7 linked regions of the Homo sapiens genome follow. The protein of the gene in region 6 interacts with the protein of the main gene of each other region in a pairwise test. Each region holds a gene or a part of one and is shown on either strand. Other genes may lie near its edges.

Region 1 (3,262 bases), on a different chromosome or scaffold from region 6:
CAACATGGTGAAACCCTGTCTCTACTAAAAATACAAAAATTAGCTGGGAGTGGTGGCGGGTGCCTGTAATCCCAGCTACTCGGGAGGCTGAGGCAAGAGAATCACTTGAACCCAGGAGGCAGAGGTTGCAAGCCAAGATTGCGCCACTGCACTTCAGCCTGGGTGACAGAGCAAGACTCCATCTCAAAAAAAAAAAAAGTAGCAGAGAGGCTGGGCATGGTCACTTATACCTGTAATCCCAGCACTTCAGGAGGCAGAGGCCAGAGATCGCTTGAGCCCAGGGGAGTTTGAGACCAGTCTGGGAAACAAAGTGAGACCCTATCTCTGCAAAAAATTAGCCAGGTATGGTGGCAAGCACCTGTAGTCCTGGTTCCTCAGGAGGCTGAGGCAGGAGGATCGCTTGAACCCAGAATTCGAGGCTGCAGTGAGCCATGAATGTGCCACTGCACTCCAGTCTGGGCGACAGACTGAGACCCTGTCTCTCTCTCTCACACACACCCTAAAAAAGTAGCAGCACTCCAGCCTGGGTGACAGAATAAAGGCCCTGTTTGGGTACCCTGACACACACCTACTCATACCAAAAACAACTAGCAGCAGAGAAACCAATTTCCCAGAGTTCTTGCCTCTGGCTCAAGCTTTTTTTTCAGAGACAGGTATCCCCAATATAGGTATCACCTTGTTTTGCAGATTAGGAAACTAAGGGTCCAATAATTAGCTTGTATGAGGTCACAAAACTAGTTAAGTGACAGACCTGGGATTCAAACCTAAGTTTGTCAGATTTCAAAGCCTATACTCTTCACTAAACCCAATGAACATTCCTAGAAACTACAAATCAAACATAATTTTTTGTTTTTGAGATGGAGTCTTTTTCTCTGTTGCTCAGGCTGGAGTGCAGTGGCACAATCTTGGCTCACTGCAACCTCTGCCTCCTAGGTTGAAGCGACCTGTCTCGGCCTCCCGAGTAGCTGGGGATTGCAGGTGCATACCACAATGCCCAGCCAATTTTTCTATTTTTAGTAGAGACAGGGTTTCACCATGTTGGCCAGGCTGGTCTTGAACTCCTGACCTCAGGTGATCCACCCGCCTCAGCCTCCCAAAGTGCTGGGATTACAGCCGTGAGCCACCATGCCTGGCCTTCAGAAATAATTTTTAAAAAGATTGTGGTAAAATACATGTAACATAAAATTTACCATCTTAAGAATTTTTAAATGTATGGTTCAGTAGTGTTAAGTATATTCACAGTGTTGTGCAACCAACCTCCACATTTTCATCTTGCAAAACTGAAACTATACCCAGTGAACAACTCCCTATTTCCCCCACTCTCCAGCCCCTGCAACCATCATTCTACTTTCTGTCTCTGAGTTTGACTACCTAGGTATCTCATATAACTGGAATCATCTAGTATTTATCTTTCAAAGAAAGTGAATTTTGAACAGGCTTCTGCTGACTTCTAGACCAAATGCCCTTTTCCAGCCTTTCTACATGTTCATTTTCATCAGTGCTCTAAGCAGTTTTTTTTTTTTTTTTTTTTGAGACAGTGTCTCACTCTGTTGCCCAGGTTAGAGGGCAGTGGCATGATCTTGGCTCACTGCAACCTCTGCCTCCCAGGCACAAGTGGTACACGCACCTCAGCTCCTGAGTAGCTGGGACTACAGGTAGGTGGTCGCCACCACTCCCAGCTAATTTTTTTTCGAGATGGAGTCTTGCTCTGTTGCCCAGGCTGGAGTGCAGTGGCGCGATCTTGGCTCACTGCAAGCTCCGCCTCCTGGGTTCATGCCATTCTCCTGCCCCAGCCTCCCACGTAGCTGGGACTACAGGCACCCGCCACCACGCCCGGCTAATTTTTTTTTTTTTGTATTTTTAGTAGAGACTGGTTTTCACGTTAGCCAGGATGTTCCCGCTCTCCTGATTTCATGAACCGCCCGCCTCGGCCTCTCCAAGTGTTGGGATTACAGGCGTGAGCCACCACACCTGGCCTAATTTTTTTATTTTTAGTAGAGACAGGGTTACACTATGATGCCCAGGTTGGTCTCAATCTCCTGGGCTCAAGTAATCCACCCATCTCAGCCTCCCAAAGTGTTGGGATTACAAGTACGAACCACTGCAGCTGGCCTTCTAAGCAGTTTTTACTAGGACCTTTCATCTTTTCGAGACAGACTCTTGCTCTGTCACCCACGCTGGAGTGGCACAATCTCGGCTCACTGCAACCTCTGCTTCCTGGGTTCAAGCAATTCTCCTGCCTCAGCCTCTGGAATAGCTGGGATTACAGGCATGTGCCACCACACCAGGCTAATTTTTATATTTTTAGTAGAGATGAGGTTTTGTCATGTTGGCCAGGCTGGTCTCCAACTCCTGGCCTCAAGTGATCCGCCCACCTTGGCCTCCCAAAGTGCTGGGATTATAGACGTGAGCCACTGCTCCAGGCCTTGGCCCTTTCATCTTTTAAGACAACGTAGCTCATTTTTAGGGACAGAGAGAAGACAGGAGAGACATACCCCTTAAGCTCTTGAAAAAGAGCAATATTCAACATAGCAGAAAACAGATTATTTTTATGGCTGGTAACTAACTGTTTATTATTATTTTGAGATGGAGTCTCGCTCTGTCGCCTAGGCTGGAGTGGAATGGCACGATCTTGGCTCACTGCAACCTCCACCTCCCAGGTTCAAGCGATTCTCCTGCCTCACCTTCCTGAGTGGCTGGCATTACAGGTGCGCACATCATCATGCCCGGCTAATTTTTGTATTTTTGTAGAGATGGGGTTTCACCATGTTGGTTAAGCTGGTCTTGAACTCCTGACCTTAGATGATCCACCTGCCTCGGCCTCCCAGTGTTGGGATTACAGGTGTGAGCCACTGCGCCCGGCCTAAGTTTTTACTCTAGATTGGCTTTCCTTTCTCGCCAAGAACTTTGATTTTAACATTTGCATGAAAATACGAGACTATGTTTAGTGTGTATTAAAAACATTCCCAAACAAAAGCCATGAATCCTCTCCTGTGACACAAATGCTCAACAGCTGACTCTATAGCGATGGCCTTTGTTTCAGACATGGTTACTAATACTTTAAGTGGTAGTAAAAATAGATTTTTTTAATTTTTAATTTTTATTTTTTTTTTGAGACAGTCATGCTCTTGTCACCCCAGCTGAAGTGCAATGGCATGATATCGGCTCATTGCAACCTCCACCTCCCGGGTTCAAGTGATTTCTGCCTCAGCCTCCCGAGTAGCTGGTATTACAGGAGCCCGCCAGCATGCCCAGCTAATTT
Region 2 (5,318 bases), on a different chromosome or scaffold from region 6:
GCACACCACACTCCCTGCAGACCCTGCTGTGTGTGGGTCACCCAGGGAAGGCCTCACTTCTGAGTGTGAATCCAGCCTTTCTGGGCCTCTGGGGGTCAGGGTGTCTGTGGCTCTCTAATAGCCTCTGTTTATGAGCAAGGCTCTTGTCATGGAGTGAATCACCGGATGCCCCCTGCCACCCCAGTGAGGGCCAGGGCCAGCGGTATGCCCATTTTACAACTGAGGATCTGAGGCCCTAAGAAGTGGGTCACACCAGCTCAGGGTCAAGTAAATTGGCTGAACCTGTGTTCTTAACTCTGGGGTCAAACCACCCTGTCTGCTCCCTTGAGCCATTTTCTTGGAGCCTCGTGAGGGCCCCAGTGTGGGTGCACGGGGTTGTCGCCCCTGCAGGGCAGTCAGTGCCAGGAGCTTACAGGGCTGATCCAACTACTTGGCTTCCTCATGTGCCAGGTCCTTCTTCTCCCAACTGCGTACAGTGGCAACATCTTCCCTATGGGCTGTGGTGACATTAAAAAGTTAATCCATGTACATCCTGGCTACTATGATTAACTTACTCCTAACAACCTTTGACTACCCCTCCCTGAGGAAGCCCTCCTTAACCCTGAAGTCTGGCTCAGGTATCCTTCCCTTCCTGATGCTGGCCTCTCTAGTGCCCATTACCCACCACAGCTCTAACCCAGCACCCACACTGTGCAGTAGTCACCATTCATGCTTCTCAGGGTCGGGGACCACAGACACGGGCCTCTGTGTCCTGTGTGGAGTGTGTAGGTTGGGCGTCTCCTTGCTGTTCTCCAGGCCAGCGTGTCTATGTGCTCGGGAGGCAGCTCCCTGCCTAAGTGCAGTCTCTCCCCTTCCTGGGCCCTGATGGGTGGGGAGCAGCACCTCCCTCCTGCCTCCTCAACTGAGCCTGAAGCTGGGGTCATAGGATCAGCAGGGGCTCCAGGAGCTGTCCTGTGACTGATCACAGCCACAAAGCTCCTTCTACCCCCGAGAGCCTCCCCACAAGCACACAGGTGAACAGGTCCCCCTAGATAGCACAGACACATACAGCTGCCCGAGACTTGGCCTCAACCGAAGGGGCACTGTCAGAGGTTCTTAATCTCAGGGGCACCTTCAGGATGCCCCTCCCCTCAGGTATCCAGGGCTGAGGCCTTGGATGCTCCCTTCCAGAATGAGGGCCCTGTCCTACCAGGACTCCCAGTTGGTTAGGAACACACCTGTCTTCCTGTCTGCCTCCACTCTGCCACCGAGAGGATACCAGCCATTCCAAGTACCCACAAGCCTTGCCAAGTGACCCTGCTAGCACCCCTCCATCCAGGACACTCCCTATGGGACAGGGCTGACTTATGGGGATCCCTCTCAGCCACATGTCCCATGCCAGTTCCAGTCCCATCAGGCAAGTCAGCCCTCCCTCAGGCACTGATGCATGGCCAGCCAGGACTCACGGCATAATGAAAAGGACCAGGTCATGGGGCGAGACAAGTCTGCCCTGGGATAGCCCTTAGGAGGTCATATGTAAAGGTAGGAGCTGGAGTCCCTGGAGCCCAAGCATGAAAGTGTTTGCATGTTGTGACTGTGTGTGTCTGTGGTGGGGGCAGGGCTTACAAGCCTGGAGAGGCTGGTGGGACCACCAGGAGTCTTCCTGGAAGAGGGAAGTCCTGGGTAGCAGTGAGAGAGAGGCACAGGCTCTCTAGGAGCCAGGGGAGGCAGGCTGAAGAGAGGCCCAGGTGTCCCTGTCTGAGCCTATGCTACTGGACACCCTCCCCCCACCCAGCACCCGCCCCCCTTCAAGGATCCTCCCTGCGGCTCCCTGTGGCCAGCAGCTCTGCAGCACTCGGCTCTGCTCCACTCTGCTCAGCTCCGCTCCAGGAAGGCCACCTCCTCCTCCCCCTCCTCCTCCCGCTGTCACCACTCACCGCTCATAACCTCAAGGGGGTGGGGACCCCAGGGCTGGACACACCCCACCGTGGCCCCAGAGCTCAGCCGGTCGCACGGACGGACAGTTGGAAGCCGGACCCCAGAGCCTGAGGTGGGCAGTGTGCCAGGGTCCCTTGCGGCCTCCTCAAGGTCAGTGCCAGCTGGGGATGCAGCTACTCTGGGGCTCTTGAGACTTGTGGGGCACACCCCAGGCCCTCATCCCAAATCACAGGCCCCAAAAGGGGCTTTACCCCCGGGGCATCTGGGGCAGGCAGGACCAGGGGAAAGGGTATGCCCCCGTGTCCACAGGCCAGCCCTGGTCTGGGGGTCTATCAGGAGAGGCCCCAGGCTGGGGGCCAGCTCCTTGCAGAGGCCTCACTGGGGACACCCCGCACCGGCCATGGGGAGCTAAAATTGGAAAGTGGCGAGTGGGAGGCAGCTGACAAAGCTATTTCACGGGCTCTTCACCATGCTCCGGTTTCAAGCTCCTGCTCCATTAACCTGATCCCCAGGGCCTCTCCACCCCCACCCAACTGATGAGGAGGTGCCTCCACCCTCAGGCCGACAGCACAGCCATCAGGCTGGCAGCCTCTGCTGTGGGCAGGGGCAGTGGTGGTCTTCTCTTACCCCAGATTCCAGAGGGGGGTCACTGAGAAACCCAATCCTGAAGGGAGGCAGGCAGAAGTCTGTCCCAGGTCTGCCATGTGACCTTGACAGGTCCCTGCCCCTATCTGGCCCATGACCCCTCCATCTGTACGAGGAGACCGTCGGCTGCTGGGGGGCCCAGGGGAGATGGCTACAGGGCTGGGGATGAAGATTTAGGGGAGGATCAAGGGTGGGCAAAAGGGCCACATCAGCCACCTCTTGGCCCCGTCAGCCCAAGAGTTGCCTGGACATGTTCCCTGCTTCCTCCCTTTAATTTGGGTCCTATGTCTGTATCCATGGAGTCCTTGGGAAGCCCCTGAGCCAGGCTGAAGCGGGATAGGAAGGGTAAAGGTGCTAGCTGAGCCGTAGTACGGCCCAGCAGTTCTCCAGGGGACAAGCTAGGCCCCCGCTGGAGGGAGTGGTGAGACTCAGCCGGGGCCTGATTCTGGTCAGCACCTTGGACAGCAGCCAGTGCCCTCCCTGGCCCCGCCTGGCCCCGCCTGGCCCCACATCCGCTACTCCTGGGCACCTCCTCAAATAGCACAGCCTCCAGCTGGTGCCCAGGGCCTGAATACACAGAGCGCTGAGAGAGTGGGGCAGTGTGGTCACGGACACAGGCAGGGACTGGGATGTGACAGGCTGGAGCTCAGGGACTTGTTGGGGGAATGGGGGTCAGTGACAGGCTGGAGGCTTAATGCGAGGATGGAGGCTTGGCTCTAGGGGCAGCACCTGGGGTGGTCATGGGATCTCAGGGAGGGGAGTGGGAGTCAGAGAAAGGGTCTTAGAGAAGCTGGGGCTTTGTGAGGAGCTAAGGGAGACTCACTGATCGAGGTGGGGACCCTGCAGGCAGAAACCTGACTGTAGTGATAGAGGTGGGGTTTCTCCGCACGCAGGTCATGGGGGCCTTGGCAGGAGCGGTTTTGGCAGAGGGTGGGGCCGGTGCCTCTGGAAGGTATGAAGATGTAAATGAAGGTGAGGGAGGCAGGCTGCGAGTGAGGGCTCTGCGGGCAAGAGCCTTGATGGGTGGGGTGGGGGCAAGAGCAGCAGCTGGGATGGGGCACTGGTGTTCGGTGGCCTGTGAACTGTGGGGGGCACAGGGGCAGGCAGAGTGATGGTACAAGGTCCCCAAGGGGCTGGAGGGGCAATCTCTCTTCAGAGTGGGTCCCCACTGGGGTGGTGGGACCATGAGGTGGGGCTAGGCTTGGCTGGAGACTGTAATTCCCTCACCCAACCTGTCTCCCCAGCCCTGTCCAGGCTATGGGCATCAAGACAGCATTGCCGGCGGCTGAGCTGGGCCTCTACTCTCTGGTGCTGAGTGGGGCCCTGGCCTATGCTGGCCGGGGCCTCCTTGAGGCTTCACAAGGTAATGGCTGTGCCCCGGGGCAGGTGGACAGGACCCTTCTTCCCCTGGAGGCCTCAGGGTTCCAACCAGCAAAGCCAGAAAGTTACAGGCTCCAGACCTAGGGTACTCCTTCTAGAACACGGCTGGATCTCCCTTTTCAGCCCGGGGTTCCCATCTCAGATAGTCACTGGAGGCTGGGTGGAGCCAGGTTCAGTCACAGGAACACAGAGATGCAGAGACACTGACAGAGAGATGGACACAGAGTCACACACATAGACACACACACACACACACACAGAGGCCTGGACCCAGACACACACACACAGAGACCTAGACCCAGACATACACACACACACATCCCGACACACACACACACACACAGAGACCTAGACCCAGACACACACACAAACACACAGACATATACACACACCCCCCAACACACACACACACACATACACACACAGAGACCTGGACCCAGACACACACACACAGAGAGAGACCTGGATGCAGACACACACACAAACACACAGACATATACACACACACCCCAACACACACACACACACACACACACACAGAGTCCTGGACCCAGACACACACACACAGAGACCTAGACCCAGACATACACACACACACATCCCGACACACACACACACACACAGAGACCTGGACCCCGACACACACACAAACACACAGACATATACACACACACCCCAACACACACACACACACACAGAGTCCTGGACCCAGACACACAGCGAGACCCAGAAAGAAGCAGATGCAGCACCAAAGAGACTCAGACCCGTGCCCCGTTCCTGATGCCCTCGCTCCCCAGGGTGGGGCAGCCTTGTCCACGGGGGAAGGTGGGGCAGGGGATGTGAAGGCCCCTCTCCCTGAGGCCACACTCTGTTCTCAGATGGGGCCCACAGGAAGGCCTTCCGGGAGTCTGTGCGACCTGGCTGGGAGTACATTGGCCGGAAGATGGTAGGTCCCCCACATCCCAGGGTCCCTCCCATCCCGAACCCTTCTCTGCTCTCTGCTGTTCCAGATGTTGGCAAGTAACAGAGAGCTTCTCACAGCTCTGGGGCCTCTGGCTTGAGCTTCAGTGCCTTCAGCTTCTTTACTGGCCCCTCCTGTATCCTCCTGGGACATCAAGTTTGCCCGGGCCCTGCTCACTTGGGAAATAGGTCGCATTAGTGGAGTGTGCTTCAGTGGAGCCTCCAGCACCTCCTTCCCAGAAACAAAGCAGTAAAGGGGGAATGGCAGGCAACGTGCGGAGGAGAGGGGGAGCTTCAAGCGACCCGGCAGCCCCCATGGTGCCCTTCACTCCTCTCTACCCTCCTGCCTCGGTACTTCCTTCACAGAGGAGTGTGGAGACCTGCAGGCACTGCTCTTGTGTTTGCATAAAGAGGAC
Region 3 (4,577 bases), on a different chromosome or scaffold from region 6:
AAAGATAATCTTTGTCATAATCCACAGTCAGATTTTCTTCCAAAATCTTCCTTGCTCTCAGAATCGGTGGTTTTGAAGACTCAATCACTATGGGGCTTTTCAGGAACACCCTATGTGTAGAAAGGAAAAAAAAAAGGAAAGAGAAAATTAGCACTAAATGTATAAATATTTTAATTACCAATTAAGTAGGTCCTAACATGGGAAAGATTGACACTTTCTTTGACTGAAGCAACAAGATTGAGAGGTGGGACATGTGCAGAGAACTGGAGACCGAGGCCAGCTCTCCCAGCTCCCCTGCACCGTCTTCATGGCTCTGGCCCCGTGAGCCACAGCTCTCACCTGCAAAATTAGGATAATTCTCTGCCTCAGGTGAAATTACGCTGCTGAGGCCCTTATATAAAGCCTGTTATATAAGTGTAAGATATTGGTGAAAGTTTAACTAAATTAATATCTATATAAAGGAAACACCCAATTTTATCAAAGCATGGTGATGCTTAGGGTATGATAGGTTCCTGAAAGTTCTAACTGCAATTTAAGGGATTGAACCTTTATCTGAAGGGAGGTTTCTGCCACAAACCTTTATTAGTATCTGATGCCTGTGTTATAACCCACCTTACCAGCAGTTTGTTGAAACAGACATTGGAAATAGGTCATGCTTTGTAATACTGAAGCTCTGTGTGCCCTCAATTCACACAGAGCTTCACAGTTGGGAAATCCTTTCTACATGTTCTTCCTCATCTGACCCTCACAGAGCTTCTGAGAGGTAGACACTACAGTTACTACTATGACCAGGCACCTCAGGGTAAATTCTTAATGGAGAACAGTATTTCACTGATGAAGAAGCAAAGCCAGAGAGATTAAATGACCTTCCTGAGGCCACGGAGCTTCTGCTAAAGGGCAAAAGAGAAACCTCCATACAGAATTTTTTTCCCTCAGAATCGTGACTTCCCACGTTACTTAATTGCCCTCCACTCACTTTAAGAGGAAGGAGCTGAGCTCCTCACCTTCAGCAATGACGGAGATTACTCATCCAGAAAACAGCAAGAGCCTCTCATCTGAACAGACAGGTAAGAAAGTCATGAGTCTGGGTTGAGTCACCCAGGTATGCCAGTTACTACCCTGGGGACACACACAATAAGACCTTCTAGGAAACATACATGCTTTTAGGAATTGATCATGTGAAAGCACTGCCAATTTTTAGATATGAACACTGGGAGGGTTCTATACAAACTGCGGTGAGAAAACAAAAGAGCAAACTCTTGGCAGCAACCTGGAAAGAAAACTGGTCATCACATTTGACTCCCTGTTCACTAATGTGCTGATAAATAAATGGGAAGTGGACTTTTAGAATCCCTGGTCGACAGAGGCCACAGTGAGGCCTGGCAAAGACGCCAGAGACGAACGACAGCCAGCCCGGGCGGACCTGACACGTGGCACAGGGACTTCCAGCAGTGTTGCCTAATGGTGGCACATTGTAAATGGCAACCCAGACACCAACACAGGCTGCTGTAAACCTGCTTCCAGGGTGAAGGCAGGTGCGAGCTATGTGTTGAAAGGGCAGTGTGGTATGCTAATGAGAAGCACGGTGCCACGTCGACCTCTGCCACCCACTTGGCCAAGTTGTTTAATCTTCCTAAGCTGCAATTTCCCCTTTTAAAAATGGGCTAATAATAGTTTCTACTTCAAAGACTTGTGTTATGAGGACTAAACTGGCTAACAATGGAAACGCTCAGCACAATGCCTCCTGTGCAGCAGTAAGAGCCCAACAAATGTAAACCCTCAATAACAATAATAGTATTATTATCATTAGCAGCTGAATTGGGTCAATCAAAAACAGGAACGGCAAATCAAATCCCAAGCTGACACTGAGGTGGGCGGGACTCTGCCTCCAGGTGGCCCAGTGGGGCCGGGCAGTGGCAGCAGGACAGGCTTGATTGCTGTTGGCAGTTTGCAGCTTACTCTTGAGAAAGGACTTGAAGCTACAAACAGCAACAACTACAAGTTCTATAAATGATGGTTACAGACTCATTTTCTTTTAAACATACAGGCTGGGCCGGGCGCGGTGGCTCATGCCTGTAATCCCAGCACTTTGGGAGGCAGAGGCAGGTGGATCACCTGAGGTCAGGAGTTCGAGACCAGCCTGGCCAACGTGGCGAAACCCCGTCTCTACTAAAAACAGAAAAATTAGCCAGGTGCGGTGGTGGGCGCCTGTGATCCCAGCTACTTGGGAGGCTGAGGCAGGATAATCATTTGAACCTGGGAGACGGTTCAAATGCAGTGAGCCAAGATTGTGCCACTGCACTTTAGTCTGGGTGACAAAGCAAGACTCCGTCTCAAAAAAAGTAAAAATAAAAACAAACAAAAAGCAAACAAAAAAACCGTAACAGGCTGATAACAAATGTTTCTGCTGTATTTTCGGACACAAAGGACAACGGCATGTGTGGGGGGAAATACCACATAGAAAAAGCTAGGAGACCATATAACTTGAAGCAAAGCCAACTTGTAACTTTTGAGCATGGTTATTCTTGCAAGTAACTATGTTTCTTCTTAAGGGAGGGAAGCATAAGTTAGAACAAAGGCATCTGAAGAGAACTGAGACAGCTAAGAAGGAGAGGGTGTGGAGTGCACTGGGCAAAACCATCAGCACCAAACACAGACCTCAAATTACCCTGGATCTGGGCGGGTCTGGTCCCGGTGCTGAACTGAGCCTCGGAATCTCTTCACCTTCAGACTGTCAACAACTTCACTCTCGTCATCTCCCTTCACAAAGCCTTACTTGGTGTAGGTTTCAACCTTAAACCAATAGCTCTTAGACACTATCCCTGGAACATTCAGCCACTTCCATTTTGTGAGTCAACAGTATGACAAGAGTGGAATGTGGGGAAGGCTGCCCTGGGAGAAAACACGCACCACGAATGCAACCTGGGGCACAGCCTGAGGAACGGATGCAGCAGGAGGGAGGGGACTGCACTGTGAAGCCCCTGGGCCATTTCCGGGGTTTGATGGATAGAAATGAGTTTGCAAATTTTGAAGTGAAAAAAAGAGTAACAGTTGGGATCCAGAGGTAAGGATTTAAGTATTTATGAATAAAAACAGTGGTAGGCGGGTTAGGCTTAGAACCTCAGAGGTCAGTTTCATGTGATAGCCCAGCAGGGAAGGGGATTAAGGTGGTGATCTCTCTTCTCCAGTTTTTTTTTTTTTTTTTGAGACAGAGTCTTGCTCTGTCACCCAGGCTGGAATGCAGTGGCACAATCTCGGCTCATTGCAAGCTCTGCCTCCCGGGTTCACGCCATTCTCCTGCCTCAGCATCCCAAGCAGCTGGGACTACAGGTGCCCACCACCACGCCTGGCTATTTTTTTTTTTTTTTTGTATTTTTAGTACAGACGGGGTTTCACTGTGTTAGCCAGGATGGTCTCGATCTCCTGACCTCGTGATCCGCCCGCCTCAGCCTCCCAAAGTGCTGGGATTAAAGGCGTGAGCCACCGCGCCCAGCCTCTCTCCTCCAGTTTTAAGATACGAGAACATCCAAACATTTTCCCCCAAGCTTAAAGAATAAAAAGGATGAAGAGAAAGCTGAAGTAAGGAGAATTATAATTACACCAACTATCCTATTTTGAGTTATCTTTAACATTTTTTTCTGTAAGCAAAGGAGCACAGCAGGGATTACTTAATGAAACTATCTTCAAAACGAAAATGTTTCCTCCAACCATTTCTAGATGTTTAGAACTTATGAATGTTGTGAAATTTCTACCTCCACCAAAATAATGCTTATTTCTTAAAACCGATTTAAAAAGCCTTGACATATAACAGCACCAACCTATCAAACAGAAATAACCAACTCTTTAAATGTTATTCAAGTTGTAGTTATAATGTGTAATTAGTCAATCTGGTTGAGGACAATTTTATTCTAAAAACCTTCTTAGGAATTCTCTCCCAAAGAGTACCGAAACAAAAATCTCAAAGCAAGAAAGCAATGATGGAGTTGCCAGCTCTCCTTTGAAGACTATTAACGGGGATGATGGCGAATGCATGAAAACAACATACTATTTCCATGTGGGACCATCCGACCAGATTTTTAATATTAAAAAAAGCAAGGCCAGGCTCACGCCTATAATCCCAGTGCTTTGGGAGGCCAAGGTGGGAGGATGGCTTGAGCCCACGAGTTCGAGCCCGGCCTGGACAAGGCAGGGAGATAACATCTCCACAAAAAGCAAAAAAGTTAGCCGGGTATGGTGGCATGTGCCTGTAATCCCAGCTACTCGGGACGCTGAAGCGGGAGGATTGCTTGAGTCCGGGAGCTCAAGGTTACAGTGAGCTATGATGGCACCACTGCACTCCAGAGCTCTGTCTCAAAAAAAAAAAAAAAAAAAAAAGGCAAGCAAAGTCCTTTCTTCTCCATCATGAGAAATTTGGCAGCAGAGAGTCAGTAACCAGTGGAAGACTGCAAATTCTACCTGTAATTACTTCTGGTTTTGTGAAACAGCCAAGTGGTCTTCAAATTCAACTCCTCACAGAAGGGTATCAGCTGGCAAAAATAAATGTACTGTTTTAAAAATAGCATGAGGTACTAAGATAA
Region 4 (4,577 bases), on a different chromosome or scaffold from region 6:
CTACTCGGGAGGCTGAGGCAGGAGAATCGCTTGAATACAGGAGGCAGAGGTTGCCGTGAGCCAAGATCAAGCCACTGCACTCCAGCCTGGGCAACAAGAGCAAAACTCCGTCTCAAAAACAAACAAAACACCCTTCAATGGTCCCCCGTCACCTTCTGCAGAATACACATTCCTACTGATTCAGGCCCTGTCTACCTCCCCACACTCATTCCCACTCACGCTCCTCCACCATGTTTGCTGCAATCACAGTATTCCTGAGGTTAGTTCCCTTCTCACATATTCTAAATGCAAGGTGTGAGACAGTCAGACTTCATAACAATTGTTTAAGGACAACATTCTAAGAGCTAAAACACCACTTACCAGCTGTTAAAGAATGAGGTGTTTTTTTCTGTTATATACCTTTGATAATGTCTCTATGAACATCTTGGCTTATATGGCTTCCCACTCCCAGTTATCCTTAATTGATATGGCAATAGCAGGACCGCTACAGTAGCATTTCTGGGTCAAAGAGCATGAATGGATTCTGATACATACTGCCAAAACAGTTACACAATAACATCAACTGTAATTTGGCTACTTAATTGAAGCTCTCTATTGCCTAAGAAATGTATCTCATAGCACCTTCCTTACCCCACACATACACACTAATTGCTGAAAGAAGCCTACTAACCTGGAAACATCTAACACTGTCAGTTTAATGGACAGATTCTTGTTGTCATCACCCTATCAGTAACACCTCGTAAAGACACATACTTCATTTCCAGCACCTCCTATACTAGCAAGGGACCTACATGTCAGGCACTTCATACATTTAATACCAAGAGAAACTCCACTAGGGAGGGACTATCCTCAGTTTACACGAAAAGAAGCTGAGGCTTGGAAAGGTGAGGTGCCAAATTGAAAGTCACACGGCTAGTAAAACATGCATTCGTGTTTCAAATCTGACTCCTTCTAACCTTTCCCTAGTACCAACACCACTTCACTTCTGGCTGTTTCTACTTGCTCATTAAAGATTCTGTTGCTGCTAGGCTGGGCCTGGGGGCTAACACCTGTAATCCCAGCACTTTGGGAGGCCAAGGCGGGCAGATCACGACGTGAGGAGTTCAAGACCAGCCTGGCCAACATGGTAAAACCCCGTCTCTACTAAAAATACAAAAATTAGCTGGGCATGGTGGCACTCGCCTGTAATCCCAGCAACTGGGAGGCTGAAGCAGGAGAACTGCTTGAACCCAGGAGGCGGAGTTTGCAGTGAGCAAAGATTGCACCACTGCACTCCAGCCTGGGCAACACAGCAAGACTCCATCTCAAAAAAAAACAAAAAACAAAAAACCTGTTGCTGCTATTGGAACAAGTGACAAGCAACAGCTTAGTCAGGGTTGAAATCCTACTGTTCAGCAGCATCTCCAAGAAATCCATTTTGTCTACAAATGGAGTGTGACAATACTCCCTTTTGATGCTGTTCACTATGCAGCCCCAGAGCCCCTAACAGTTCCTGGCATAATAAATATCTGTTGAAAGCATAAACCACCTGTGTTAGGACATGAGCCAAAGAGGTTCACCTTCCCATGGAATGGTACCTGTTCCAACTTAACAGAGTCCATTGATAAAATGATTCACTCAATTTTCATTTAAGTGAAGGCTGTGCTTTTTTAAAGAGACACACAGTCTCACTCTGTTACCCAGGCTAGAGTGCAGTGGCAGGATCATAGCTCACTGCAGTCTCAAACTCCTAGCCTCAAGTGATCCTCCCACCTTAGCCTCTCAAAGTGCTGGGATTATAGGACAGAGGCACCATGCCCAGCCCGGCATGTGCTGTTTAATACAATTTTTGTTAACAAGATGACAAGGCAGTTAAGTTAAACCCAACACGGTATTCTGGAAAAAAAAAAAAGTGCTAAATCAAGGATAGAAAAAAAATAATGAATTTACACAATAAAAAAGAAAATAATTTTGACTAAAGAACCAACCAACCCAGAACTCAATGCCTAGAACAAGACAGACACACACTGAACAGCCTGGTTTCAAATCCTACCCCTATCACAGATCACCTGAAGCTCAGGAGTTTCAGACCAGCCTGGGCAACATGGGGAAACCTCGTCTCTACAAAAACAACAAAAAAAACAAAATTAGCCAGGCATGGTGGTGTGAACCTGTAGTCCCAATTCAGGAGGCTGAGGCAGGAGAATCGCTTGAGCACAGGAGGCAGAGGTTGCAGTAAGCTGAAATAACACCACTGCACTCCCGCCTGGGAGACAGAGTGAGACTGTCTCAAAACAAAAAGAAAAAAAAAAAAAATGAGGCTGGACACAGTGGTTGATGCCTCTGGTCCCAGCTACTTGAGTGGCTGAGACAGAAGCAACACTCAAGCCCAGGAGTTGGAGGCCTGGCGGCTGCAGTGAGCTATCACTGCGCCACTGAACTCCAGCCTGGACAACAGAGCAAGACCCTGCCTCAAAAAAAAAAAAAAAAAAAAAAAGGCAACAAACCCTACAATGGCTGGCTATGCTCACCACCACGACCACAGCAGCAACCCAAACCCAGCCCTAGTCAGTGAAGATTTAAAAACCCTTTAACAAAGGCCAGGTGTGGTGGCTCCCACCTGTAATCCCAGTACTTTGGGAGGCCGAGGCGAGCGGATCATCTGAGGTCAGGAGTTCGAGACCAGCCTGACCAACACGGAGAAACCCGTCTCTACTAAGAATACAAAATTAGCCGGGCATGGTGGCGCATGCCTGTAATCTCAGCTACTCAGGAGGCTGAGGCAGGAGAATCTCTTGAACCCAGGAGGCGGAAGTTGCAGTGAGCCGAGATCTCGCCATTGCACTCCAGCCTGGGCAACAAGAGCGAAACTCTGTCTCAAAAAACAAACAAACAAAAAACTAACAAACACACTTCAATGGTCCCCCGTCACCTTCTGCAGAATACACATTCCTACCAATTCAGGCCCTGTCTACTTCCCCATACTCATTCCCACTCATGCTCTTCTGCATAACCTTCCTCTGGACCTCAGTTTCATCATCCACAAACTAGAAGACAGTGGCTACCTGAGAAACTGTTAATGGAGACAAATTTCCTAGTACATAACAGCAGGCCAGGTCTCTTTTCACTTTTGTAACTGCCATGCATATAGACTACATCTATTCCTTGATATGAAACCAACAAATCAAGTTACTTTAAACACTGCACCCTTTATACAGGTTGAGTATCTCTTATCTGAAATGCTTGGGACCAGAAGTGTTTCAGATTTTAGAATATTTGTATAAACATGATCAGGTATCTTGGGGATGGGACCCAAATCTAAACATGAAATTCATTCACGTTTCCCACACATCTTATTCACATAGACTGAAGGTAATTTTATACAATATTTTAAATAATTTTGTGCATGAAACAAAGTTTTAACTGTGATCCATCACGTGAAGTCAGGTGTGAAATTTTCCACTTGTAACATTAATGTCAACACTAACGGAGTTTCAGAATTTGGAGCATTTGGATTTTTGATTTTGGGATCAGGAGTGCTCAACCTGAATAAGGAAAGACAATGTAGAGAGGTGGTATTATAAACAAGCTAGAGTTCAGTCAAGTTTCAGCACCACAAATTATTTTTGTTTATCAATCCCTATCACCCTTAAAACAGAAAGTTATAAGGAACTATCAAATATACAGGTTTGAGGAAAATAAATATCTGTTTGTTTTAAATGTTATGTTCAGTTTAATACTAGTCTTATAAAACCACAGCCCGAAGACTCATCCAGAAGGTTCTCTCACTTTTAAAAGGCAATCAAGGGATCTATACAACCTGGTGACTATAGTTAACAACAATGTATCACATAATTGAAAAATTGCTGAGAGTAGATGTTAAGTGTTCTTGTCAGAATCAGTATACCACCTAATGTGAATTAACTTGACTTAGCCATTCCACAATGTATAGTACTTCAAAACATCGCATTATACATCATAAATATAATTTTGTGTTAATAAATAATAACTAAAAATAAATAAAAGACAATCAAGTTAAATTATGAAAGGGATACCAGGCAAAAGAATGTTGTAAGTTTTCTAAAGTTCAGGTTCCCTCCCAAGGTCAAAAACTTTAACTGTGTCTACAATTCTAAATCTGAACTGGCAAGCAAATTTTCACCCAGTTAATTGGGTCGAGGAAAAATAAAATAAAATAATTCCCATGATTACACAAATGTTCTTTTATTTATATTAGTCACTGTAACAATCCTATTTATGGATTAATTTCTTTGTACCCCAAACAACTGTTTTCTTATGAAATTTTTAAAGATTTTTGTAACAAAATATAACCTTAAATTCCTAATTTTGAACTGAAAACATCTACTCCATAGCTAGAGTAACTATAAAATTGGGCCATGGCCAGGCACGGTGGCTCACGCCTGTAATCCCAGCACTTTGGGAGACCAAGGCGGGCGGATCACATGAGGTCGGGAGTTCGAGGTCAGCCTGGCCAACGTGGTGAAATTCCATCTCCATTAAAAATACAAAAATCAGCTGGGCATGGTGGCACACGCCTGAGGTCCCAGCTACTCAGGAGGCTGAGGCAGGAGAACTGC
Region 5 (4,373 bases), on a different chromosome or scaffold from region 6:
CTCAGAGGTCATGGTTCTCAGGCCAAGGGTCATTTCAGGATGGTCATCATGGCCATCATCGTGGCCGTGGCGTCAGACTGAGAGTGATCCCTGTAGATTCCAGGATCTGCAGCCAGGCTTGGGAACTGCTCTTAGGAATACACCTGAATGACTCTAAGGCGCCTGACTTTGCAGCTCCTTTTTAAGAGGCAGAGCCCGTTTCCCTTCTCCCTGAATCTGAGCTGGCCTGGTGACTTGTGCAGGCGCCCACCAGGGCTGCCAGATCTTTAAAGAGAAACCAGCAAGCTGGAATTTTTGTCAATCTCTGGACTTTTTGAGATGGAGTCTTGCTCTGTTGCCCAGGCTGGAGTGCAGCGGTGCGATCTCAGTTCACTGCAACCTCCACCTTCCGGGTTCAAGCGATTCTCCTGCCTCAGCCTCCTGAGTAACTGGATTACAGGCTCCCACCACCATGCCTGTTTTGTATTTTTAGTAGAGACGGGGTTTTGCCATGTTGGCCAGGCTAGTCTCGAACTCCTGACCTCAGGTGATCCGCCCACCTCAGCCTCCCAAAGTGCTGGGATTACAGGCGTGAGCCACTGCACCCCCGCCCTTATTTATTTTAAAATCTCTTGACTTTTAAACATGGGTAACTAATTTAAATTCTATAAAAATACTGTGAGGAAAAACTAAGCCCTGGTCATTCAAATTATGGTCAGGGGCCAGGCGCAGTGGCTCGAACCTGTAATCTCAGCACTTTGGGAGGCCATGGCAGGAGGTTGACTTGAGGCCAGGAGCTTGAGACCAGCCTGGGCAACTCAGTGACACCCCTTCTCTGCAAAAAAAATTTTAAAAATTAGCTGGGCATGGTGGCATGTGCCTATAGTCCCAGCTACTTGAGAGACTGAGGTGGGAGAATCACTTGAGCCCAGGAGGTCAAAATTGCAGTGAGCCGAGATCGTGCCATTGCACTCCAGCCAGGGCAACAGAGCGAGACCCTGTTTCTAAGAAAGACAAGAAGTGTGGTCTGGGGACCTGAAGCATCAGCATCGTCAGAGAGCTTGTTGGAAACGCAGAATTGCTGGCCTCACCCCAGGCCCAAATCTGCATTTTAACAAGATCTCCTCGTGACCTGTGGCATATTAAAGTTTGATAAGCACTGGATTAAACAAGCAGGGAACAGGACTTGGCTCCAGGATGCCGTTGTGACTTCTGTTTCAGGATAAGCCACACCTGCTAAGCCCTAGCAGTGACCTAAGTCCATGATTCAGAATCCACACACCACCTGGTGGCTCCTTTTATTATATCAATTTATTCAAGTGATTAAAAAACTTCTTGGCAGCAGGATGACAAAACAGGTCTGTAAACATGATCTCATCCCCCCATCCCTTCTTCCAAGGAGCTTCCTATGACAGGAAATCGAATTCTAGTTGGCAAATCCAGTGATGAGGTCTGTAGAAAAGGGGTCCCGTGTCACAGCCAGGAAGGCAGACTCGTCCCTTTAACCCACTCCAGCCAGGGGTGCTGGCCAGGATGTGCTGTTCTGTCATGACGTGGTCACTGAGTCTGGTTCGTTGGCAGCCCCTTCCCCAGGAGGAGGGAGACTCTTTGGCAGTGCGGCAGCCCTCCCGGGGGCACGGGCTTCTCGGCAGCAGACACAGGCAGGCCAGAAGCAGGCAGCTGAGCCTCTCCAGCGAGCATGGTATTGCTAGGGTTGCAGGTGCCCTGGCAGGTGGCCAGGTGAGGGGCTGAGGCACAAGTGCTATCAGGAACTTGGCTGCCCCACAGGGGCTGAGGACACCCAGATGGTCCACGCCAGTGGCCTTGAAATTTCCCCTGCAGAAGCCAGACCGTGGGGAAACAAGCTTTCGCGACGTGCCACCCCGGGCAGCTTGAGGCTTCAGTCCTTGAAGGGGTTGTGGGCGCCCCCTGGCTGCTCCTTCTCTGCGGCCAGAGGCTCCCCGTTCATCTCCTGCAGCGGGTGGTATGCATAGTCCCCATGCAGGCGCCGGTTCCTCTCTGCTCTGGACAGGAGCAAGGACAGGTTTGCTGCAGTGCTGATCAGCAGGAGGAAGGCCAGCGCCAGGGTGAGGGCTAGCCAGGCGGTCCTGCAGACAGGAGAGAAGCCCCAAGTGGGGGACTGCTGGGTGGGCTCAGGGCTTGGGTAGCACTGGAGGGGCTTCCCTCTACCCGGCATAGATAGCACTAAATCAGGTGCCTCCAGGGACCACACAGGGAATGTTATGAGCAAAATGGACTAGGTGGGGATGGGGCAACATTTAAGACATGTGCAGGGAACAGCAGAGGCAGTCATGACGTACAATGCAGGTCCGTGCTGCCCCATCTCCTGATTTTTTTTTTTTTTTTTTGAGACAGAGTCTCGCCCTGTCATCCAGGCTGGAGTGCAGTGGCATGATCTCAGCTCACTGCAATCTCCGCCTCCTGGCTTCAAACGATTCCCCTGCCTTGGACTCCCGAGTAGCTGGGACTACAGGCTCGAATCACCACGCCTGGCTAATTTTCGTATTTTCAGTAGAGACCAGGTTTCACCATGTTGGCCAGGCTGGTCTTGAACTCCTGACCTCAAGTGATCCACCTGCCTCGGCCTCCCAAAGTGCTAGGATTACAGGCGTGAGCCACCACGCCTGGCCTGATATTTTAAGAGAAGCCATTAAAAAGGTTTTTAAGGCTGGGCGTGGTGCTCATGCCTGCAATCCCAGCACTTTGTGAGGCTTAGGCGGGCGTATCACTTGAGGTCAGGAGTTCAAGACCAGCCTGGCCAACATGGCGAAATCCTGTCTCTACTAAAAATATGAAAATTAGCCGGGCACCTGTAATCCCAGCTACTCAGGAGACTGAGGCAGGAGAATTGCCTGAACCCAGGAGGCGGAGGTTGTGGTGAGCTGAGATCGCACCACTGCACTCCAGCCTAGGCAACAGAGTGAGACCCCGTCTCAAAAAAAAAAGTTTAAAAAAATGTGAATGTTACTGATTTTTAGATGCTGCTGATATATTTTAACTTTTTAAAAATTATGTAAGCCAAATAAAACACAGCTGGATGCTGGGCATGGGGGCTGGGAGGCCAAGGTGGGAGGATCACTTGAGCCCAGGACTGTGCACCTCGTCTGTGCAAAATAGTGAGATCCTATCTCTAAAAAACAGTAAGAAATAAAATTAGCCGGGCATGGGGGCACGTGCCTGTCGTCCTAGCTACTTGGGAGGCTGAGGCGGGAGGATCGCAGTGAGCTGACTGTACTACAGCACTTCTGCCTGGGTGACAGAATGAGGAAACCTCCTGCCCCCACCCTGGGATCTCATCTAGCCCAGTTTGCATTCTGAGCTCCAGTGGGGGATGCTGACAACAGAGGCTGGGCACTCGAAGGCCCTGGGCTCTGCTCCAGGGTCCCCAAAGCAGACAGTGGGGAGAGCTGGTCCCGCTTCCTCTAAGGCAGGGAGCTGGCAGGGGACAAGGGCAGAGATGGACCTCACAGGGGAAGGGTGCGGGAGAGAAGGGGGATTCCTCCCGCCCTGGCCCCAGCTCCCACAGAAGCACCTACCTGGTGAAAAAGGAGAGTTCTCCCGCCCTCAGGGTGGCTTCAGGTGGCTGGAGACACTGCTTTACTGTAACATACCAGAGACAGGCTGAAGGGGCCGGAGCAGGAGCGTCTGCCCATACCCCTCCCCTTGGAGGGATAGGTACCTCTGGAGACGCTGCAGTTGCCAGTCTTGGGGTCACAGGGACAATGGTGCTCACACTTACAAGGCCTCTGGCAGCCCGGCCCATGCCAGCCAAGGGGACACTCTATGGAAAGGAGATGGGAGGAGGGAGGAGGGAGGAGAAAGGTTGGGGCCTCCAGTGTCAGAGCCTTTCTCGACAGGACAGGATACCTGCCCCTGCCCATGTGTACAGAGCCGGGCTAAAGGTGAAGCACCCCCTGCCCTCCCTGGACTAGCCCCTGAACGTGACCTTATTTGGAAGCAGAATCTCTACAGAGGCACTGCAGTTAGGATCTCAAGATAAGACCGTGCTGGATTTGAGGTGGGCCCTGGAGCCAGAGCCCGGGGACCCTTGTTTTAGCCGAGCCCTTTGTGGAACGGGCCGCAGCAGCCACAGGGGAGTCACACAGTGATGTGCAGGTGAGGCCGGGGCAGAAGACAAGAGGCAAGCATTTCCCAGACCAGAAGGTGGAGACAGAAGCAGCAGAGGAGCAGTGGGGGCTGCCGGGGGCCACCGTCTCCCCATCCGCTAGTGGCGTGGCAGCTCCTACCTTCACTGCAGTTGGACCCGGTCCATCCGGCATCACAGCGGCAGCCGGCTGCCGAGACAAGACCGGGGAGGCCAGGTGAGGGCCTAGGGCAAGGCAGGGCTGGGCAGAGCCCCCTCCCCAGAACCC
Region 6 (4,104 bases):
AATTCTCTCCATGACCCGCCTCCTCCTCTGCCATCCTTCAACCTCTCCCTCCTAACCTGTAACCCCACCTGCCTCTGGGCCTACTTTGTTCCTTCTGTCTGGAACACTCCTTTCCCCCATTTTGCTTGGCCAGCTTCTCATTTTTTGGGATTCAGTTTATGTGTCTCTTCCTCCAGGAACCCCTCTCTAACCATCCCTCCCAGCCACCCAGACTGGAGCCCTGCTCTGGTTCTCACGGCACCCCTCACCCTGATGGTGGCGGGCATCCTGCTCTATGACAATCCCTTAATTATTGTCCTGGTTGCTGTGAGCCCCTGGAGGGTAGAGACACCGTTAGGCTCACCGTTGGGTCTCTCATAGCAAGACCCGCACCAATGCATTACACGTTCAATAAGAGCATGCACAAGCATTCTTTTGTGAGCAGCTCACCCTTTCCCGCCTCTGCCAGCCCTTCCTCCCTGTCTCCACGTATCCAGATTGCACCCTTTGTGGAAACCAGGCTCACGGCTGACTCCCTTCACAGCGTCTTCTCTGCTAACCTGAGAGGGAACCCATCCCCTTTCTCGCTGAAGGCGCAAGATGCTGGATCCGTGGTGTGTTCATGCAATTTCTCATTTCATTTTTTATATTATAATATTTAGATGTATGTAAGTTCCTTGAATATAGAACTTCTAGCTATACCATCCCTGTATTCCTGGCAGTTAGCCTAGAAAGCTTTGAATAGACAAATGGAAGTGTAATAAGAGAGGCCATTACCCGATACTTGTTATTTGTTTCCTGCTGCTGCTATGACAAATTACCAGAAACTCGGTGGCTTAAAATACAAATGGGGCCAGGCGCAGTGGCCACGCCTATAATCCTAGCACTATGGGAGACCAAAGTGGAGGATCACTTGAGCCCTTGAGTTTGAGACCAGCCTAGGCAATGCAGGAAGACACCATCTCTACAAAAAATAGAAAAGTTAGCCAGGCATGGTGGTGCACACCTGTAGTCTCAGCTACAGGAGGCTGAGGTGGGAGGATCCCTTGAGTCTGGGAAGTTGAGGCTGCAGTGAGCCGTGATTGTGCCAGTGCACTCCAGCCTGGGTGACAGAGCGAGACCCCATCTCAAAAAAGCAAAGCAAAGCAAAGCAAACAAAGCAAAACAAAACACAAATGTATCCTCTAACAGTTCTGGAGGCCAGAAATCCTAAATCTGTTTCCCTGGGCTGAAGACAGGGAGTTGGCAGGACCCATTCCTTCTGGAGGCTCCAGGGGAGAAGCCATTTCCTTGCCCTTTACAGCCTCTAGAGGGTGCCTGCAATCCTTGGCTCGTAGTGGCCGTCCTGAATTCCTCTGGCCTCTGCTTCCATAGTCACATCTCCTGACTCTGAGCCTCCTGCCTCCCTCCTATAAGGACCCTTGTGATTATATAGGGCCCACTTGGATAATTCAGGATCATCTCCCCATCTCAAGACCCTTAATTTGGTAACATTCATCAAGTCCAGGGATTAGGTACCCCCCAATCTACGGGAGTAATCATTTAGCCTATCACAATAGCATTTATTATGTCACAAAGAATTGATAAGAAAGCCAAGCTTCTTGGTTCAATGCTGTTTTAATTCCGCCAGAAAAGTTGGAAGATTTCTTTCCTATGGGATGAAGATATTGGAGCAAGACTTTTAGGGGTGCATTGTTTATAAAGTTCCCAGACCTTGGTCCTGAAGAGCCGGCCCACAAAGACATAAATTACTGGATTCAGGGAGCTGTTAGTGAAGGCAAAGAAGTTGGCCAATTGCAGGCCCAGGTCAATGAAGTCCTCCCAAAAGCAGCCTCGGACTGCTTGCACCTGGAATAAGAATTCCAGGAAGGCAAAGAAGTGGTAAGGGGCCCAGCAGACCAGGAAGGCAACCACGAGCGTGAGGATCAGCGCTGTGGTCTTGCTATCCTTGCGGCCCCCGCACCTTGTCCTGCTGACCTCCTCCCGCGTTCGCAGGGAGGCCAGGATGTGGTAGTTGAAGAAGACGATCGCAGCCAGTGGTAGGAGGAAACCCAGAATATTTAACTCCACAATCCTTGCAAAGTGCCAGGCCTCATGGGGGAGGAGCAGGATGCAGGCGGTGATGTTCAGATCTGGGACGGCTTGGATGGATCGCAGCAGGAATGTGGGGATGCTCAAGAGGCCCCCCACAACCCAGATGAGCACGCAGGTGACCCGGGCCTGCCTCCGCCGCTGCTGCCTCCGGCTGGCCATAGGGTGCACCAGCACGCGGTAGCGGTCCTGGCTGATGGCCACCACCAGGAAGATGCTGATGAACAAATTGGCCTTGATGACCCCGTTGATGACACGGCAGAGGAGGGCTCCGAAAGGCCAGTTAAACTGGTTCCAGATATTCTCTGCCCAGAAGGGCAAGCCCAAGACAAACACCAGATCAGAGGCTGCCAGGTTGGCCAGGTAGATTTCTGCCACGTTCAGTTGCCGCCGGGGCAGGAGGAAGACCAACAGGACAAAAAGGTTCCCTAGGAGGCCGAAGAAACAGATGGAGATGATAAATGTTGGCAGCACTCTGTGCAGCAGGTCCCAGGCTTCTGGAGCATTGTCACAGGCCGTAGCATTTTGAGGGAAGAGCTGGCTCTGGTTGGAGGATTGGAGCTCTAGAGGGGGCCAGGATGATGCCATGCACAGTGACCTGAAATGAACAGAAGGTAGAATAAAACAGGAAGTGGCAGACTACAGCCTATGAGCCAAACCAACCTGTCACCTGTTTTTGGACAATAAAGTTTTATTGGCACAGAGCCACACCCATTCCTGGACGTATTATCTACAGCTGTGTTCATGCTACAAGGGGGAGTCGAGCGCTTGTAACAGAGACTGTCTGGCTTGCAAAGCTGAAGATATTTACCATCTGTTCCTGAGGGGGAAAAGTTTGCTGACCTCTGGTTTAAGGGATGGTGCCTGAGTCCAAATCCCGGTACAATCACTCAGTGTGAGCTACTTAGAACCATTGACTTTTACTTTCCTTTTTAAACATTGGAGAGAATCGTGTCTCTCTTGTGGGATCACGGGAGGGCTGTTGTCAGGATCTACAGGGTGCTTAGCTCCGTGCCTTGCATAGAGGAAAGACTTTGGAAGGTAGTGATTAGTCTTAGTAACAACTGTACCATTATTATTATTACTATTAGGGTTTTAACAGGCATTTAATGAGCCTCTACCTCTTGCCAGCCCCTTGCCAGGCACTGGAGATATGCAGGACAGAGCAGCCCCAGCCTCATGGGGCTGCAGACATGGAGGCAGAGGTCATGGCTTGAGATAGAGCTGAGGGAAGCCCGGGAACAGCAAAGGAAGCTGACCTGTTGGGGCTGGGACCAGTGTGGTGGCCGGGGTGGGGACAGTGCTAGGAGGTTCCTCTTACAGGCTTGAAAAACATGAGTATTGGCCGGGTGTGGTGGTTCACACCTGTAATCTCAGTACTTTGGGAGGCCAAGGCAGATGGATCAGATGAACCCAGGAGTTCAAGACCAGCCTGGGCAACATGGTGAAATCCTGTCTTTACAAAAAATACAAAAATTAGCTGGGCATGGTGGTGCATACCTGTGGTCCCAGCAACTCGAGAGGCTGAGGTGGGAGAATCGTTTAAGCCTGGAAGGTCGAGGCTGCAGCGAGCTATGATTGTGCCACTGCACTTCAGTCTGGGCCGACGGACTGAGACCCTGTCTCAACAACAACAACAACAACAAAAAAAAAAAAAAAAAAAAGGAGAGAGAGAGAGAGAAAAGAAAAAAGAGAAAGGAAAGCATGAGTAATAAATAAGGATAACAACTAACATCTGTTAGATGGTATTAATGGTCTGTGTTCCAGGCGCCATTCTAAGTGTTTCACATTTAAGTATTTTCTCATTTAATCTTCCTGGCAGCCATTCAAGGTAGGGGCCATTGTCATCTCCAGTTGGCCAATTAGAAAATTGAGTGCTGAGACCCGGAGTCGCCTGTCTGAGGTCACACAGCTGGTCAGTAGGGCCTGGATTCAAACCCAGGCAGTCTGATTCAAGAGCCTGATTGAGATCCTGTGCTTCTGTCTGCTCTCTTCTGCTGCACCTGTCCCCACGCGATGAATGACAAAGCCAGG
Region 7 (4,577 bases), on a different chromosome or scaffold from region 6:
CCAGCTACTCAGGAGACTGAGGCAGGAGAATGGCTTGAACCCAGGGAGGCGGAGGTTGCAGTGAGCCGAGATCACAACACTGCACTCCAGCCTAGGTGATAGAGTGAGACTCTGTCTCAAAAAAAAAAAAAAAAAAAAGTAAAGTTGGCCTGGTACAGTGAGTCACATCTATAATGCCAGCACTTTGGGAGGCCAAGGCTGGAGGATCACTTGAGTCTAGGAGTTTGAGACAAGCCTGGGCAACATGGTGAAACCCCATCTCTACATAAGATACAAAAAGAAAAATTAGGTGGGCATGGTGGTGCATGCCTATAGTGCCAGCTACTCAAGAGGTTGAGATGGGAGGATCACGGGAGCCTGGGAGGTCAACGCTGCAGCAAGCCATAATCACACCACTGCACTCCAGCCTGGGTGACAGAGACCCTGTCCCAAAAATAAATAAAGTTATTCCAACCTCATAGCCATTATAAGCTTCTTAATACCCTGCCACCAATATTCACTCATATGGTCACAAAGGACATTTAACCGTAAACTAGTCCCAAAATGATGCTTGAGAAAGGGATTCTATGGTCAAACAAATTTGGGAGCTAGTATACAGCAGTGTTCCACTTTCTTTCCACTTTCTTTTGATTTTTCTTTTTTTTTAGATGAGATCTCACTCTATTGCCCAGGCTGGAGTGCAGTGGCGTGATCTTGGCTCACTGCAGCCTCCACCTCCCAGGTTCAAGCAATTCTCCTGCCTCAGCCTCCCGAGTGGCTAGGGTCACAGGCGTGTGCCACCTCTCCCAGCTAATTATTTTGTTTGTTTTTGAGCAGAGTCCCACTTTCAACACACTAGCAAAGGCAAAAAGCTATCCTTTGTTGATAACTGAGAAAACTACATTTTACCAAATACGACTATTAGTAACTGGACTATAATTTAGGTAGGCACATCAACCACCACCATCACTGCCACCAATCATAACCCCGGCCCTCAAAACTTTATCAGGCCAGGCACAGTGGCTCACACCCATAATCCCAGCACTTTGGGAGGCCAAGATGGGTGGATCACCTGAGGTCAGGAGTTCAAGACCAGCCTGACCAACACAGTGAAACCCCATCTCTACTAAAAATACAAAATTAGCCAGGTATGTTGGTACATGCCTATAATCCCAGCTAGCTGGGAGGCTGAGACCCTGGAGGCAGAGGTTGCAGTGAGCCGAGATCGCATCACTGCACTCCAGCCTGGGTGACGAGAGCAAGACTCCACCTCAAAAAAAAGAAAAAAGAAATTTCCTATGAGTAACTCAGCTGCAAGCTAAAAATCCTGAAATTAATGTCTGTGTATCTCTACACATCCCTTACTTAACCAGCTTCCCTAATGAAAAGAATTAATGAAAAGGAGCAGTAAGAGGTCCACGTACCAGTTGCCGTATGTATTCCTGAATGGAGTTTGGATAAATAAGCACAGTGATTGCAACCAACATGTTCAGGGCAAAGTCAAAGATCTGGTAACAGAAGAATGGGATGATCCAGGCTGCGCGTTGCTAAACAGAACAGAAAATAGAAAGTTAATGTGTTCAATATTATAAAACAATATTTTTCTTAAATTCAAAGTATTTTATTAATCTGAAAGGAAATGGAAAAATTGGAATTCATTAACCCAGGTCATGGTGGAAACCAGTATGCCAAATATAAGCAGTCAACAAATAAGCTTCAGTGAACATTTCCAGGACTGGCTGTGTGTGGTGTCTCACACCTGTAATCCCAGCATTTTGGGAGGCTGAGGTGGGTGGATCACTTAAGGTCAGGAGTTCGAGACTAGCCTGCCCAACATGGTGAAATCACGTCTCTACTAAAAAATACAAAAATCAGCAAGGTGTGGTGGCACACACCTGTAGTCCCAGCTACTCTGGAGGCTGAGGTGGGAGAATCACTTGAACTTGGGAGGCGGAGATTGCAGTGAGCTAAGATCACACCACTCTACTCCAGCCTGTGTGACAGAGTGAGACCCCGTCTTCCCAAAAAAAAAAAAATTTCCAGTATAATATTGGTTTTCCTAGTACCACATAATACAAACGAGAGATTTAAACAGAGATTCTTAACAGAAAACTGGAAAGTCACTTCTCACTATAGACAGCAGCACAGATTACACATGTAAGAGACCAAGGAAAAGGCCAGCATCTTACTGCAAGCGGCTTACCTTGTACGCTCCGTAAGTAGCCATAGCACATATCAGGATCATGAGAAGAGAAATCGCAATGGCAATGCACATGTCTGCCGAAAGATTAAAAAGAATTTCTTTAAAAAAGACAATCAGTAGTGGATCCACTGAATACTTTCAGTCTCTTCTCAAAGGCATTTTGTAAATAAACTAGCATAAAGTTAGTAAATACTTTATACTAAGAGATTATTTCAAAATAGAAAAAGGGATATTGGTTTACAGATTTTTTTAATGTTTGTTCTTCTGGTCCACTGGATTATATAAATAATGAATTAGGTATTACTTTATAGATATATAGGTGTCTAACTTCTATTTTGTAAACTCATGTGTGCCTCAAAGCTCTAATGAAAGCCTTCATAGCTTCCGATCTTATTTAAAATAAAAACTCCGGCCAGGTGCGGTGGCTCACACCTATAATCCCAACACTTTGGGAGGCCGAGGAGGGCGATCACGAGGTCAGGAGATTGAGACCATCCTGGTTAACACAGTGAAACCCCATGTGTACTAAAAATACAAAAAATTAGCCGGGCGTGGTGGTGGGCACCTGCTGACCCAGCTACTTGGGAGGCTGAGGCAGAAGAATGGCATGAACCTGGGAGACAGAGCTTGCAGTGAGCCGAGATCGCGCCACTGCACTCCGGTCTGGGCGATAGAGCGAGACTCCATCTCAAAAAAATAAATAAATAAAAATAAAACCTTCATTTCTTATCAAGGCCTTGATGTTCCTCTTTATTCCAGAGCAGTCTACCTCTCTAATCTCGCCTCACCTTGTCCCACTCTCTTGCTTGCTCTAAGACAGCCATATCATCTGGTTCATTCTATTTTATTTATTTTTTCTTTTTTCTTTTTATTTTTTTGAGACAGAGTCTCACTCTGTCGCCCAGGCTGGAATGCAGTGGGACAACATTGGCTCAATGCAAATTCCGCATCCCAGGCTCAAGCAAGTCTCCCAGGCTCAAGCAAGTCTCCCACCTCACCCCCTAGGTACCTGAGACTACAGGTGTGCTCCACCATGCCAATTTTTATATTTTTAGTAGAGACGGGGGTTTCACCATGTTGGCCAGGCTGGTCTCGAACTCCTGACTTCAAATGATCTGCCAGCCTCGGCCTCCCAAAGTTCTGGGATTACAGGCGTGAGCCACCATGCCTGGCCTTCAACTTCTTTTTTCCTTTAGTCAATCTCTGGTAAATAAGGAGTCTTGTTTGGTCTCCCAATCTGGAGTTGCAGTGGTGTGATCATGGCTCATTGCAGCTTCAATTGCCTGGGCATTGTCACTATGGGATTATAGGCATAAGTCACCGCACCCGGACAAAAATATCTTAAACCAACTTGGCAGGTACACAACTGCTTGTAGCACCATTATTTGCTACGGGTAATAAATATTTTATAAATATTCTTTTATACCTACTCAATATTTAATAAGAAATAATTTTATAAAAATGAACCCCAAACTATTGGTTTTTTTAAACTGCTTTTCCTAGATCTGGCAGAACAAATTATTGTCAATGAGAAAAATAATATTGGTTTTCATTGTACATGCAACTTCTCTAAAAGCTTTGCATTTTTTCGACAGAGATCTAGAGGGGAAAACATAATCTGCATACTAAATCTCTACTAAATTGCAAATCACATCCTGATTTCAAAAACATTAAAATGTAAACAACAACAATAAAATGCATTGGAGAAGCAGCCGGTGAGCACGTTAAGAGCATGAAAGGAGGAATACTGGACACCAGAGCTGATCTAACTCCTTCTTAGCCAGTGGCAAACAGGACCTCAACAGATCCAGGGGATTCTGTAGGCTTAATGCATCTGGAGTGTCAACTTGACTGGACTGAAGGATGCAAAGTATTGTTCCTGGGTGTGCCTGTGAGGGCGTTGCCAAAGGAGATTAACATTTCAGTCAGTGGACTGGGAGACGAAGACCCACCCTCAATCTGTATGGGTACCATCTAACCAGCTGCCAGCCTGGCTAGAATAAAGCAGGTAGGAGAAGATGAAGAGCAGACTTGCTGAGTCTTCCGGCTTCCATCTTTCTCCCGTGCTGGATGCTTCTTGCCCTCGAACATCAGACACCAGATTCTTCCGCTTTTGGACTCCTGGACTTACACCAGTGGTTTTCCAGGGGCTCTCCGGCCTTTGGCCACAAACTGAAGGCTGCACTGTCAGCTTCCCTACTTTTGAGGTTTTGGGACTTGGACTGATCCATCACTGGCTTCCTTGCTCCTCAACTTGCAGATGGCCTATCATGGGACTTTACCTTGTGGTCATATAAGTCAATCCTCCTTAATAAACTTCCTTAAATATATCCCATTAGTTCTGTCCCTCTAGGGAACCCTGACTAATATAACATCCTACGATTTCAGTAAGACA

Evidence for each region.
Region 1: the proteins of BDKRB1 (region 6) and LTAP1 interact in a two-hybrid assay, tested with the Homo sapiens proteins (one large-scale study listed by BioGRID and IntAct).
Region 2: the proteins of BDKRB1 (region 6) and HHATL interact in a two-hybrid assay, tested with the Homo sapiens proteins (one large-scale study listed by BioGRID and IntAct).
Region 3: the proteins of BDKRB1 (region 6) and INSIG1 interact in a two-hybrid assay, tested with the Homo sapiens proteins (one large-scale study listed by BioGRID and IntAct).
Region 4: the proteins of BDKRB1 (region 6) and NAP1L4 interact in a two-hybrid assay, tested with the Homo sapiens proteins (one large-scale study listed by BioGRID and IntAct).
Region 5: the proteins of BDKRB1 (region 6) and NAGPA interact in a two-hybrid assay, tested with the Homo sapiens proteins (one large-scale study listed by BioGRID and IntAct).
Region 7: the proteins of BDKRB1 (region 6) and LAPTM4B interact in a two-hybrid assay, tested with the Homo sapiens proteins (one large-scale study listed by BioGRID and IntAct).

The regions. Positions count from the first base shown.
Region 1 is NC_000001.11:154,207,913-154,211,174, forward strand, and holds part of LTAP1 (protein C1orf43), read right to left. Parts: intron 1-3,262. UniProt on the Homo sapiens protein: General regulator of phagocytosis. Required to uptake Gram negative bacterium by macrophages.
Region 2 is NC_000003.12:42,699,328-42,704,645, reverse strand, and holds the start of HHATL (protein-cysteine N-palmitoyltransferase HHAT-like protein), read left to right. Parts: upstream 1-1,847; 5' UTR 1,848-2,067; exon of another isoform or gene 2,068-2,105; intron 2,106-3,124; exon of another isoform or gene 3,125-3,179; intron 3,180-3,455; exon of another isoform or gene 3,456-3,458; coding exon of another isoform or gene 3,459-3,514; exon of another isoform or gene 3,515-3,534; intron 3,535-3,806; coding exon of another isoform or gene 3,807-3,819; coding exon 3,820-3,925; intron 3,926-4,820; coding exon 4,821-4,888; intron 4,889-5,318.
Region 3 is NC_000007.14:155,303,774-155,308,350, reverse strand, and holds part of INSIG1 (insulin-induced gene 1 protein), read right to left. Parts: intron 4,527-4,577; coding exon of another isoform or gene 4,456-4,526; intron 111-4,455; coding exon 81-110; coding exon of another isoform or gene 1-80. UniProt on the Homo sapiens protein: Oxysterol-binding protein that mediates feedback control of cholesterol synthesis by controlling both endoplasmic reticulum to Golgi transport of SCAP and degradation of HMGCR.
Region 4 is NC_000011.10:2,981,714-2,986,290, forward strand, and holds part of NAP1L4 (nucleosome assembly protein 1-like 4), read right to left. Parts: intron 1-4,577. UniProt on the Homo sapiens protein: Acts as a histone chaperone in nucleosome assembly.
Region 5 is NC_000016.10:5,023,599-5,027,971, forward strand, and holds the end of NAGPA (N-acetylglucosamine-1-phosphodiester alpha-N-acetylglucosaminidase precursor), read right to left. Parts: intron 4,296-4,373; coding exon 4,248-4,295; intron 3,782-4,247; coding exon 3,680-3,781; intron 3,601-3,679; coding exon 3,537-3,600; intron 2,088-3,536; coding exon 1,880-2,087; 3' UTR 1,246-1,879; downstream 1-1,245. UniProt on the Homo sapiens protein: Catalyzes the second step in the formation of the mannose 6-phosphate targeting signal on lysosomal enzyme oligosaccharides by removing GlcNAc residues from GlcNAc-alpha-P-mannose moieties, which are formed in the first step.
Region 6 is NC_000014.9:96,262,237-96,266,340, reverse strand, and holds the end of BDKRB1 (B1 bradykinin receptor), read right to left. Parts: exon of another isoform or gene 3,730-4,104; intron 3,690-3,729; 5' UTR 3,571-3,689; intron 2,669-3,570; 5' UTR 2,659-2,668; coding exon 1,597-2,658; 3' UTR 1,578-1,596; downstream 1-1,577. UniProt on the Homo sapiens protein: This is a receptor for bradykinin. Could be a factor in chronic pain and inflammation.
Region 7 is NC_000008.11:97,813,007-97,817,583, reverse strand, and holds part of LAPTM4B (lysosomal-associated transmembrane protein 4B), read right to left. Parts: intron 2,257-4,577; coding exon 2,183-2,256; intron 1,527-2,182; coding exon 1,404-1,526; intron 1-1,403. UniProt on the Homo sapiens protein: Required for optimal lysosomal function. Blocks EGF-stimulated EGFR intraluminal sorting and degradation.